Homo sapiens: one gene and its partner. The protein of the gene in region 2 interacts with the protein of the main gene of each other region in a pairwise test. Each region holds a gene or a part of one and is shown on either strand. Other genes may lie near its edges.

Region 1 (5,884 bases), on a different chromosome or scaffold from region 2:
GATGTTTCTTTCCAAAGAAAATGTTCATGTCATGAATTTTATTCCACTAACATAATCTGAACATACGGGTCTACCTTTAAATAATGGGCCAGATGACCCCTGTTTATCTAGGAGTGCAGTCTTCTGTCAGGGCAGATGTCCTTTCTACTGTGGAGAATTGCATTTTGAGACCCTATGAGTCTGAGCATATCTGTAAGGGGCTGCTGCTGTCTATTATTAGGGCGGCCTCTTTAGCTTTGGCTCTACACCATGTGGCTTGAAGATTTTCCTTGAATTTGACCTGAGCCCCTGACCCCACCCACATTGCTGGGGAGGAGGGGCCCGTTCTGGACTCTGGCACCTGTAACTCCTGACCCCCGGTCTTGCTTGCAGCGGAAAAGGAGAGGCAGAAGAGGGAGGTGCACACTCAGCCACTCTGGGCATCCTTCCTGGGTGGACTGGGCCCCCTGCAGGGCCTGCTCTCACCTACCCAGGAGCACAGCTGATCTCGGCTGGGTCTCCCTCAGCACACTCAGGATGTGTGGGGCAGGTGTCTGCGAGTCCCCGGGGGACTCAGGTTCCTGGCCAGTCTCACTGCCCCCTGCCCCAGCATTGAGACCCTCATGTGGCTGCAGATGTGGCTGATAGTGCCAATCAAGGGAGCCTCTGTCTTCCCAAACTTAAATTTCCCCTCCCATAACCTATAACTTCAGCCCCCTCCATTTTCTGAGCTAAGCTCCAATTAGTGAAAACAAAGTCAAGTGGGAGTCAGGGGACAGGAAAGTGGCCCAGGGGTGGGGCAGAAGAGGGGGAAGGGACAAGTCTCTCTCGAATGGATCCAGAGTGAGCTCCTCCCTCTTGCGAGTAGCCATGCTGCCAAGACGCTGACCTTCAGATGCGCAAGGCTCATGTCTCCTCCCCAGCCCTGGGACCCTCTGGAGGCTGCAGGTCCTGATTGCTGTGCCAGTCACAGCAGGAACAGGCCCCAAAAACGTCACATCTCCAGGAAATAAGACCAAGGTTCCACCTAACCAGTTCAGCTCTCACCTCCCTCCCAAAATGTTCACAGGGGAAACCATGGGCCAAACTATGTAACATGAAATCTACAACCTTTTTGCCCTGACTCCAACCTGGTACTGCCACGAGCAAGTCAGGGTTTTGCGTTGACTGAGTGGGATTTGGGTCATCAATTCCAATCAGATTTCTGGAGAAGGCTCTTCTTTCCCTGATGATTGAGGTCTTCATTGCAGTCCTCTCGGTGGAAGGAGAGGCCTTCCTGGAAGTCCAAACAGTTCTCTTTTCCTCCCTCTGGCTAATTTCTTGTTCAGCTGAAGCAGAGCCTGCCTCGATGAGGGAGTTCCTATTAGGTTTCTTAATTTTTAAGAGACATCACCAGAAGTGAATTCCTCTGTAAATCAGCAGTGCTTTATTTTTCTGTTGCAGAATGAGTTTGTGATCCTGGTTTTCTACAATTCTTTAGCAAATGTGTTTTTGTAATCTCACGTTCAACCCTTCCTTTATTGATGTATCTAGCATGCTGAAAGGGAATCAGTTTCCCCTGCTATTCTCAAGACACTGGTTGAGGGAGGAGACTTCAATTCTTCACTACATCTCACTAATTTTACTCTGCAATTCATTATAGTCCAGGTAGTTAGATTAGTTCCAACTGTGCCAGGAAATTTTGAGGAATGAACAAAATTAGATTTTTTTTTCCTTTTTTTTTTAAAAGATGGGGTCTCACTATGTTGCCCAGGCTGGTCTTGAACCCTTGGGCTCAGACGATCCTGCCGTCTCTGCCTCTTACAGGCATGAGCCACTGTGCGTGGCTTCAATGTTAGATGTGTTCTTGGCAGCATGGTCTTCTAAGCCATCTGAGGCAGCACCATCTCTTTTGAGTTTCCTGGCATGTACCAGAGACCTTCCTGAAACTTTTCCTTAATGAGCTTTGGAAGGGCATTGGGATCTTGATCTTTCCCATCTGGTAATGAATTATTTTTAAAGAAATATTTAAGAAAAATTATTTAGAAGTGAAAGGATGTAGGAGACAGTCGGCCTGGTGTGATGTGAGAAAGACTGGACCTGGTGGTCATTGCTGGCTTTCAAGCTGGAAAGGGACCAGGAGTGAAAGAATGTGGGTTCTTCTATAGACTAGAAGAGGAAAGAAAAAGAACTCTTTTTCAGAGATTCCAAGGGGAACACAGCCTAGAGGACAACTTAATTTTAGCCTAGTGAGTCTCATTTTAGATTTCTGACCTCTAAGTCTGTAAGATAATAAATTTATTTATTTATTTATTTATTTAGAGACAAGGTCTCACTCTGTCACCCAGGCTGGAGTGCAGTGGCGTGATCTTCGCTCACTGCGGCCTCTTCCTCCTGGGTTCAAGCGATTCTCCTGCCTCAGCCTCCCAAGTAGCTGGGATTACAGGTGCATGCCACCATGTCTGGCTAATTTTTGTATTTTTAGTAGAGAGGGGGTTTCGCCATGTTAGCCAGGATGGTCTCGAACTCCTGACCTCAAGTGATCTGCCTGCCTTGACCTCCCAAAGTGCTGGGATCACAGATGGGAGCCACCGTGCCTGGCCGGTAACACATACTTTCCACCCTATATAAATGAAAACATGTTCACATGGAAACCTGTACACAAATGTTTATAGCAACTCTATTCACACTTGCCCCAAAGTACAAACAATCCAGATGTCCTTCCGTGGCTGAATGAACAAACTACAGTGCATCCATACAATGCAATGTGTCCACTGACACTTGTGACAACTTGGATGGAGCTCAAGAACATCATGCTGACCAAAAAAAGTCAGTCTCAAAGGTTACATACTGTATGATTCCATTTATATGACATCCTGAAAAAGGCTTAACTGTAGTGATGAACAGATAAGTGGTTGCCAGAAGTTATGGGTGAGGGTAGGGGTGGCTACAAAAGGGTAACGTGAAGGAGTGGTTTTTGGGTGACAGAAACATTCTGTATCTTAACTGCGTTTGTAGTTACACAAATCTGTTATAAAATTAATAAACTAGGCCAGATGCGGTAGCTCACACCTGTAATCCCAGCACTTTGGGAGGCCAAGGTGGGTCGATCACTTGAGGTCAGGAGTTCGAGACTAGCCTGGCCAACATGGTGAAACCCCATCTCTACTAAAATACAAAAATTAGCTAGGCGTGGTGATGCACGCCTGTAATCCCAGCTACTTGGGAGGCTGAGGCAGGAGAATCGCCTGAACCTGGGAGGTAAAGTTTGCAGTGAGCTGAGATCGCATCACTGCACTCCAGCCTGGGCCACAGAGGGAGACTCCCTCTCAAAAAAAAAAAATTTAATATACTGTACACCAAAAGGAAGTCAGTTTTGCTGTATATTGATTAAAAAATGCTACAACCAAAAAGGCAAATCAACAAAGCTTTATGAGTGTATAGGCACCTATGAATGTTGGGTTTTGAATGGAAAAAAAAAGTGACAGGAAATATACAATGTTTAATGCTGGTTACTTTGGAGGGGGCAAAAATGATTCAGTTTTTCAGTGTACGTTTTTGTATTGTTTTAATTATTTCAATTAGTATATAGTGATTTTGAAATTTGAGAAACATCTACTGAAAATGGAAAATATCTGGAAAAATATTTAAAAAGAGGAAAAAGAGTATTTCTGCTTTATTGGGTACCTGTTGACAGGGTAGTAAACAAGACAAATCCATCTCCATTCTTTTTTTTCTTTTGAGATGGAGTCTCGCCCTGTCACCCAGGCTGGAGTGCTGTGGTGTGATCTTGGCTCACTGCAACCTCTGCCTCCTGGGTTCAAGCGATTTTCGTGCCTCAGCCTCCCAAGTAGCTGAGACTACAGGTGCCCGCCACCACGCCCGGCTATTTATCTCCATTCTTATGGAGCACAGCGTGGTGGAGTTCAGTCCACACGCTTACAGGTGGCTTATCTGCAAAATGTGTCTAAAAAGAAATTTTATAGGATAAATATTTTGTACATGTTTGAAACAGTGCTTGGCACAAATGAATAAATGTAATGCAAGCTGCTATTAATACATCATCTCCGAATTGGGAGAATCATTGCGATCACATCGTTGTGATTACACAAAAGCCTCTGTCATGTAATAGGGCTCAGTAAACGTCAATTTCCATAGCATTTCGAGCCTGGATACTGAAATATGGGGCAAAAAGCAGGAACATGCCCCTGGTTTGGCTCTTGCCTTCTTGCATTTCCTGGGTTTCCTCATTTATCTTTTTTTTTTTTTTTTTTGGCCTTGTTATCTTTCTACCTTCAGGGAAGCCTCTCCCTTCTTCTCCTCCCTAGAATGACCTATCACCCTCCTTCAGGACCTAGATGCAGGGCGTTTCTATCTTAGGCTGACACTTGACTCCTTGCCTACATCTATAGCTTGGCACAGAGAGATTCACGCACCCTCAAGAGTGTGGGTGAGACATATACAGCCTGTTAGACCTGAAGGTGAGCCCAACCTGGGAAAATCGTGACCTCAGAGCAGGGCAGGATGTGAAAGGTTTTGGAAAGGAGATAGCCCTGCAGGGCAGGAGGGATTTTTAAGGGGAGGAAGTGGGTTGGGGGAAATACCCAGTGAGGAGGGAAACAGATATGTAAATTCTACCCTTTTCTCTACCCAGGCAGATGGCTCTTCTTAAGGCCAATAAGGATCTCATTTCCGCAGGATTGAAGGAGTTCAGCGTTCTGCTGAATCAGCAGGTGAGTCCAAGCTTTCCATTTCAAAGGACTGGCCTGGAGACTGGGGGGTGCCGGGGAAGTGGAGGAAGAGGATAATTGGAGCTGGTGAAGTAATGGTGGAGTTGATGGAAACAACGAGAGACACGGGATACAATGCAGAGGAAAGAGAATGTGAGAGTTGGTGCTGTGGCACTATTCTAGTATTCCCGAATCCCATTGCTGACCACATTCTCCCTTGCCAACTGCCTCTCCGCAACCCCCCAGGTCTTCAATGATCCTCTCGTCTCTGAAGAAGACATGGTGACTGTGGTGGAGGACTGGATGAACTTCTACATCAACTATTACAGGCAGCAGGTGACAGGGGAGCCCCAAGAGCGAGACAAGGCTCTGCAGGAGCTTCGGCAAGAGCTGAACACTCTGGCCAACCCTTTCCTGGCCAAGTACAGGGACTTCCTGAAGTCTCATGAGCTCCCGAGTCACCCACCGCCCTCCTCCTAGCTCAGGGACCCAGCCCCTCCTCTCTGAGAAACTCTGACCTTCATGTCCTTAGGCTGTGCTCCTGCCACTCTACCCTGACACCTCAATAAAGACCAGTGCTGGTTTTGTTGGACTTCCTGGCTTCTCTTTCATGGTCTGTCCTGACATGTGGAGGCACTCGGTCCCTTTCCTTCCGCCCTCCTTCTTAGATATGCTCTTGGAAGCTTAATTCCTTACAGCAGAGGTTAGCAGCCTTGAGTGACCACCGGGCAGCGATTCTAAACTAAAACAGGCTGAACGAGGGCCAGGAAGGCGGGACTAGAGAGAGTGCAGAGCTGCAGGGGAGGGGGTGGCAGAAACAAGAAAGGGGGATAGAAGTCCTCCAGACATTGTCCTGTGACCTGCTTGTCGAGGAGGAAACTGTTGGAAGTCTCCCAGTCTTGTTCATCCTGCGCCAGGTCCACCGCCTCGACTTTTCAATCCCCTGTCCTTAGCCCCAGCTCAAACTACATTCTAGGATCTTCGGACTCTGACTACCGCAAAATACCTCCCCGGAGCCCCAGGCATCGCAGGAATTTAGAGTTGGAAGGGATCCTGGGAACCCTTTAGCGCGCCCCTTATATTTCAGGAGGGGAAGCCACTTCCCTTTGGCTCCAACATCCCTGGGCGCAGATGCCAGGATTGGGAAGCAGAGGAATCCGCCTTCCCCCCACCCCAAGCTTCTCAGATCAATTCCC
Region 2 (7,206 bases):
TCCCTTAAACTAAGAAAAACTTAGATTGGCAATTAAGCATAAGTTTCAATAAAGAGACATACATCAGTTAGAGGTTGCAGACTTGTCAAAATTCACACTGTGGACCTTCTTTTGAAACAACTTTATTCCAGTGATATCTGGATAAAATTAACAATAATCAAAACAAGCAATATTTGGGAGAAGGTTGAAAAGAAGGTCTCTCTTGGCAATGTTGAGGACATATTTCTGGACTGATTGCATATAGTCAAGCTTCATATTTTGTATACTCATTCTGCTGTGCTGCCTCCTCTGTCTAAGTCACTGTGTAACAGGAAGAGTAGAGAAGATCAAAGTCAGCCTGGATCCATTTACTAAGGATGGAAGTCTCTGCTATCAGGGAGTACGTCAAGTTGTGAATAGACTTCTTAGGGATAATAAAGTGCCTCTCTTTGTAAAACCTTCAGAAGTGAGCAGACACTACCAATTCTGAAAAGTTCAAGATTTTGCCTTTTGGGAAATGAAAGACCTTCCAGCTGTCTACTCCATGATTCTAAAATGATGCACTCTTCTATGAGCATGTCTACAAAAATATATGATGACACTCGGCTGGAAAACATTTTCTCTTCACCTTTAAATCCATTATAAAAATGAGTAATTTCTGTTACTGAAAATATTTTTTAAAGGCAAAATAGCTCTCAATAGAAAAGATTTAAGTAAGGAAGCCAGGATACATCATTCTATAAAAATTAATAAGCTCAGCATAACATTTCAGTCAAGAAAAGTCATTGCTTACAGACAGATGCCTGTAAATCTCACTGAAGCAGCATGTTTTAAAATTTCCCCAGCCCCAGGAGATTGTATTAAGCAGAGGAAGACAGAAGCTCTAGAGGCACTGGATTCCTGGACTGCGTTTCTGGTGTGAAGCAGCTAGAATTGGCAATATGTACACTCTTAAAAATTTTCTGAGCTGAACCATTCTTTACAGACAGAAAAGGGAGTTTTAAGAATCTCCTTTCTCAGGGACTTTTAAGAGGTCTTGGTTACTGTGGATATTACCAAGCCAAGGACATTATGTGGATGACCAAATTTTCTTCTATAAAATCCATTTCACCACATATTTTACTAGTTTTCTTGCTTGGGATCCAAAAGTGAATGAATTTTAGAGGCAGGTGGAATTATGTCTATATAATTAGTGGCAGTAATTAACTTTTGACACAATGCGACTATTTCTCATTCTCAAAGAGACTTAAGTATGAATTTTCCTCAGAACTTCTTCCGCAAGATACATATTTGTGACTGTCTTTATTTTCGACAATGCCTCTAATGGTGAGCAAGCTGGTTTAGATGAAACGTGCTGCAATGTCTTTAAGAGGCAGAATAAATACACAACGACAATTTTAAAATCAAGCTTTTCTGTGCTCTGGTTTAAACTTTCTTATCATGTGTGACCTATTATTCCCATTTAAATAATCTCGTTTTTAATTAAGATGTTAATTTCATAAGAAAATAACTTGTCAAAAAATCCCAATGCTTTACTGTTCAGTAAAAATCAATTAAATGAACACCCAGCAAGACATTTTTATTGATGACAGGCTCAGGCACTTATTTTCTGGTGCTTGTTAGCTCTTATAAAACAGATAATCCTGGCTAAATCAAATAGGGACTATGACTTGGGCTTAGACTTTCAGGTTCAAATTAATCAGACATTTGAAAGGTGTTCCAACTTCCCTTCAGCTGAGATAGAAAATGATAGCACTCTAAAAGCAGAGCCTGGCAGAATGGAGTTACATAAAATGCCTTTTCAATTTTTGCATTCTATTACCCTTTACTATTATAGGAAAATGGTGTTATCACCTGATTACTGAGAAAGCACACAAAAATCTCGCCTTCCAAATCTGAGCCAGTCCTTGACTGGTGACAAACAAAGCAAGGCCATCTGGTCTGAATATCATTACTACTTTTGCCATTTGGGCAAGGGATCTATCTTCTTTGCTTCAAAGAGAGGTTTAAGATTGGAAAATAGAAATGAAATAAGTAGACAGGAAGAAACATTGGAACAAATAGTTCATTCGAATGAGAGCCCCCTTTCTTAAGTTACAATCATTACCATCATTTTTATTTTTATTCTTGCCAGAGTTAACCTTTAGGGTCCCTATTTTACAAAACATTTTAGTGAAAAAAGAAGAAAAAACTTAATTCTGGAGTTTCTGCATTAAACACTTAGGAAAGGAAACGGACGTGTGGGTGAATATGAGTCATCGGTCACCCCCACCCTGCTTCCTGGTGATTCTCCATTGGAAAACCAGAAACACAGGTTGAGCTTACATTTCTGTTTTTCTGGAATCACATTATGCCCTAGGCCATGTTAATTTCCTCAACTAAACAGACCCTAATCTGCTGAAAGGCAGCTGGCTAACTGCTGGTGTCTGGCAAGTGCCCCATCTGTCCCCGTGCCTGGGGTCTCTCCCTCCTGCCTTCACTTTCCCTTTCTCGCAAACAGGCGTCTCTCTTTGTTTTCAGGGGTTTGTTCACCTGAACTTTCCTTCCTATGCCTGTCAACTTGAGCTCTTTCCCTCTGCCCTGCGGACCTCGGGCTTTGTCTAAGTGGCAAGACACAGTTGTGTGACTATAGTTACCGCGCTGGTGATGGTGGCTATGATGACGGTGATGGTGGAGATGGGGGTGCTGATGTGTAAGGGGGCGCAGGCTGAGCGGGCGCCGGGAGGAGGATGGACCGCGGAGGCGGCGGGGAGCGGGGTGCGGTGCGGGAGGGATGGAGTGCAGAGGGATTGCAGATGGGAGCTGTCCACATACCGAAGTGCTGAAACGCCGCAGCCATGGCATCGAAAGAGCGGGGGAAAGGCGGGGAGGCTCGGCAAATACAGAGGGGAGAAAAAAGGTAACAAATACCTTCACACGGCCGCCCAGCCTTGCTTTGGGAATGTATTTCTGCAGGTGTCCTCGCTGCTGAACTGGGTGGGTGAGATCCCCTATTCTGGCAGGTTCGGGCTCAGATTTCTCTAGAAAGCTGTGAATGAGAGCTCGGGCTCCACAAGGGGCTGTGATTTTGGTAGGAGGCGTGTGCGCCCGATTCTCTGTCCTTCTATACGGAGCCTAGCTTTCCCCTGGGTCCTAAATGCCTCCGTACCACAACCCTCCCTGGTTCCGTTGAGACGTACCAATAATTATTTGTAATTTTGTTAACATCTGGGACAAAAAGTACCAGCGTCATCACTCCCCACACAACATTAAAAATAGAATATTTCAAACGGATTAATGAAAGCGCAAAAGCAGATGTGTGTGTCTGTGTGTGTGTGTGTAAATTTGACAGGTAAGAAAGTATCACAAACCTATGGGAATTATTTTACTAACAAATGGTATTAAGAAAATGAACTATTTGAAAAGACTCAAATCAAAGTCTTTTCACCAAAATAAATTACACATAGATGTTTTTATCAAAAACATAAAATTTAAAAATATAACTAGAAGAACAGAAATATTTTACCGATCTCAGGATAGGAAAGGTTTTCTAAGCACAAGAGGAATAGAAGACATAAAAAAGAAAAAGATCGGTAAGTTTGAGTGCATAAAAACACTCCTGAATGTCAGAATATAAAAAAAGTAAATACAAATTACCACTTTAAAAAATTGCAGCAAGTAGATGTTTCATACACAAAGTATCACATATAAGAGAAACACTAACAGCCTTTTAGAAAAAAAGGAGGAATGTTAAATGACAAAGAATTTATAGAAGAAATGGGGATGCATAATAAACACATTTTTTTAATATCAACCTCGCCAGTAAATGAAAATATGCAGTTTAATATGGCAGTTTGGGCTGAAGTTTTAAATATGCATGTCTTATATTGTTGGAATAATAGTGAGAAAGCATAACATTTTTAAAAATCTATTTCACAATGTATATCCAGTGTCATAAATATACATGGCATTTAGATCCAGTAATTTCACTTCTCGTACCTTATGCTAGGGATATATTCAGATATGCAAAGATTTATGTGTATAAATTTCATTTACGATCATAGAAATTGTCAAAAAATAAAAAAGCATTAATTTTTATATAGCCTGTAATGTTTATAGCTATTAAAACATATTTTTGAAAACTGTTTAAGGCCAAAAAAGAAATACTTGCAAAGTGTTAAGTGAAGGAAAGCAAGATATCAAATACAGCATTCCCATTAGTTAGATCACTATGGGTAAATTTTCTTTTTGCCAAGATAACTTGATTTTCTTACTTGTATTTGCTTAAAGTTTTCACATTTACTAAAAGGTTAGAAAACTTATTAAATATTTTAAAGTAATCTTTCTATCATGTATTTCAAAGACTTTAAAGTCATCAGAATTCTTCCAACTCTAACATAGTATTATATATTTACTTATTTGTTTAGTCATTCTCTCTGATGGAATGTAAGTACCATGTGGCAGATAATTTGTGTGTTTGTTCACTACTGCTTCCCAAGCACTTACAAGTATGCCTGGAACAACATAGCTTATACATTCCCAGAACGAGAGAATCCACATCTGGAAATGATGTAGCAATAAGACAACCATCTAAAACTTAGAGATTCAAAATTGAGAAATGGTTGCAGCAAGCGAAGGAATTTTTGGAGATGGGTTGGGTGTGATATATGGGTGGTAAGTTCTATGCTCTATGGCTCCATAGGGGCTAAGATATTTTTGATAACCACTGGAGCAGATTATTGCAGAAATATTGGCTGATCATCTAATATCCTGAGGCTTGCCCACACTTTCCAGCCCTATTACATATGGGCAGGGCCATGAGCTTACTCTGGCCATGGGCTATGACAATTCCTTACTTAGTCCCCAGGTGACTAAGTAGAACACAGTCTCACTTAGCCCCCTCTTCATTTCAAATTTCCATTCCCACTGTGAACAAAGAAGAAGCCACAGTTATGGGAAGTCACTGGGGCTGCAGAGTTAATTTGTTCTTCTAGCATTACCTAGCCTATCCTGACTAATTCAAACTCAAACTTAAAAAAAAAATGGCCTGCACATTAGATCATAGAAATATTAATGACAGCGTCTTATGTGCTAAAAAAAAAAAAAAAAACTACAGGGAAAACAAAATATGATCCAGTTAACTAGAATATTCTTCCTTCTACAATTTGACCTTATTCCTCACACATTTTCTTGGCTCTTAAACATCCATGCTAGTCACATGTTCAACAATGTGCTGTTTCACCCTTGTAAAATCATCCTGACATCTCCTTCATAAATATAGGTATTTCTCTGGGTATTAAGCCCATTATTCCTGGACTCTCAACTTCAGTGCACCCTCACGTGGATAGAGTCTTTACCTGTCACTGGTCAACACACACAAGGCACTCCCCCTGTACTCAAACCTACATCACAGCAAACCCAACATTAACAGTGCCCTTTAAAGGAGTACAGAAGTGAGTACTGAGTTGGGCGTGCCAGGAGCGAGGTCAGGCAGCATAAAAGATGCTTATAAGCAGGCCGGGCCTTCACCCTTGTCATTGACTGTTTATGCACAAAGGGGTTCATTGAGGAATCCTGGTAAACAAATATGTAGGCAGCTTCCATGTGCGGAGCTGAAATGGAGGTCAAGCAGAGTGTGCAAAACATCAGCACAATGTCAATCAGGGTAAGTGAAGGAAAGGAACTTCCTGAATGATTATATTCTAATCTGTTCTGTGCAAAGGACCTATATGCTTATCAAAGTAGCCCAGTTTCCTTTGCAATGACATTAAAAAGTGTAAAATCAAATTAAGTTCACATCTAGCCAATTTCCCAAGTAAGGCAGTTGCAAATAAGTATTTACAAACAGGATAAGGCATTCTTTACAATATTTTGAAACACATTCCTGGGGGATGTGCTAGTTTTGGGCCTACTTTCTTCCCATAGATGATTGGAAGTCCAAGGCTTATTTTAATTCTGTAAGGCTCCACAGACTTTTTTTTTAGTCCAATCTCATAGTTTCCTTGGAAGTATAACTGTCTGAAGACCTTAGAGGCGCAACTTCCATCTGACTTAATCAATTCCCTATTCCAGTAGCCACACCATAGGTCTTTAGAGGCACAGAGCTTAGATCTGCTATATTTATTTGCTTTTTCACTTCTATATCTTTCATAATGTATGTGAGTCTCTCTGGAGTAGTAAGTAGTAAGGCCAGATCATTTACCTGATCTCTTCTTTGAGACATTCTAAACCACTGAGAGATTTTAAGTAGACATGAAGGTCACACCCTTAATCTTATTCTTGGCATAAATATTTAGTTTTAACAGACTTTGCCTCAAATGCTTACTTAATTTTACCTCTTTCTTTTGGGAGCAAAATGTATTGGCTTTTCCAACATGGCAAGACCTTGGAATTATGGAAATATTTGTTCTTCTTTATTTGCACTTTAATAACCAGGCTTTTCTTTGTTTATTATCTTGCAAAAGCAGCAAGTAATAACCAAGACACACTACCGACACTTTGGTCTTTACCCACTTCTCACTAAAAATGTGAATTAAGTACACAATCTTTTTGTATGATTGACACATAATAGTTGTATACATTTATGGGGTACAATATGATGTTTTGATACGTATATTCATTGTGTAATGACAAAATTAGGGTAATTAGTACATTTATCACCTTAAACATTTACTTTTTCCTTTGTGATGAGAACATTCAATAACCTCTTTTCTAGCTATTTTGAAATATACAGTACATTACTGTTAACCCTAGTCATTCTGCTATAGCAGTGGAACACCAGAACTTATTCATCCTCTCTAACAGTAATTTTGTATCTGTGGCCAGTATCTCATTACCCTCCCTCTGTCCTGCCCTCTCCATCCTGTGGTAACCACTATTCTACTTTCTACTTCTATGACAACAACACTTTAGATTCCACAGATGACTGAGACCATGAGATATTTTTCTTTCTCTATCTGACTTATGTCACTTAACATAATGTCCTTCAGGTTTATCTATGTTGCCACAAATGTCAGGATTTCATTCTTTGTTACAGGTAAATAGTATTCCATTGTGTATATATACTACTTTTAAAAACACTTACACTTAGGCCGATTCCATATATTGGAATATATTGGAATAACTTACTTCTAAGTTATTGCAGGTGACCATTTTGCCAAATGTTTTATGACTGCACAACACAAATTGCTGTTTCCCACCTTTGATATCAGCTTCCTAACCATGTGTTGCCAACCACCAGGTCAACAC

What was found.
Region 1: the proteins of CLVS1 (region 2) and AHSP interact in binary tests that used the Homo sapiens proteins (3 or more experiments, as listed by UniProt).

Annotation. Positions count from the first base shown.
Region 1 is NC_000016.10:31,523,524-31,529,407, forward strand, and holds AHSP (alpha-hemoglobin-stabilizing protein), read left to right. Parts: upstream 1-4,376; 5' UTR 4,377-4,439; intron 4,440-4,453; exon of another isoform or gene 4,454-4,491; intron 4,492-4,612; 5' UTR 4,613-4,616; coding exon 4,617-4,691; intron 4,692-4,934; coding exon 4,935-5,168; 3' UTR 5,169-5,280; downstream 5,281-5,884. UniProt on the Homo sapiens protein: Acts as a chaperone to prevent the harmful aggregation of alpha-hemoglobin during normal erythroid cell development. Specifically protects free alpha-hemoglobin from precipitation.
Region 2 is NC_000008.11:61,283,822-61,291,027, reverse strand, and holds the start of CLVS1 (clavesin-1), read right to left. Parts: upstream 3,059-7,206; 5' UTR 2,890-3,058; intron 1-2,889.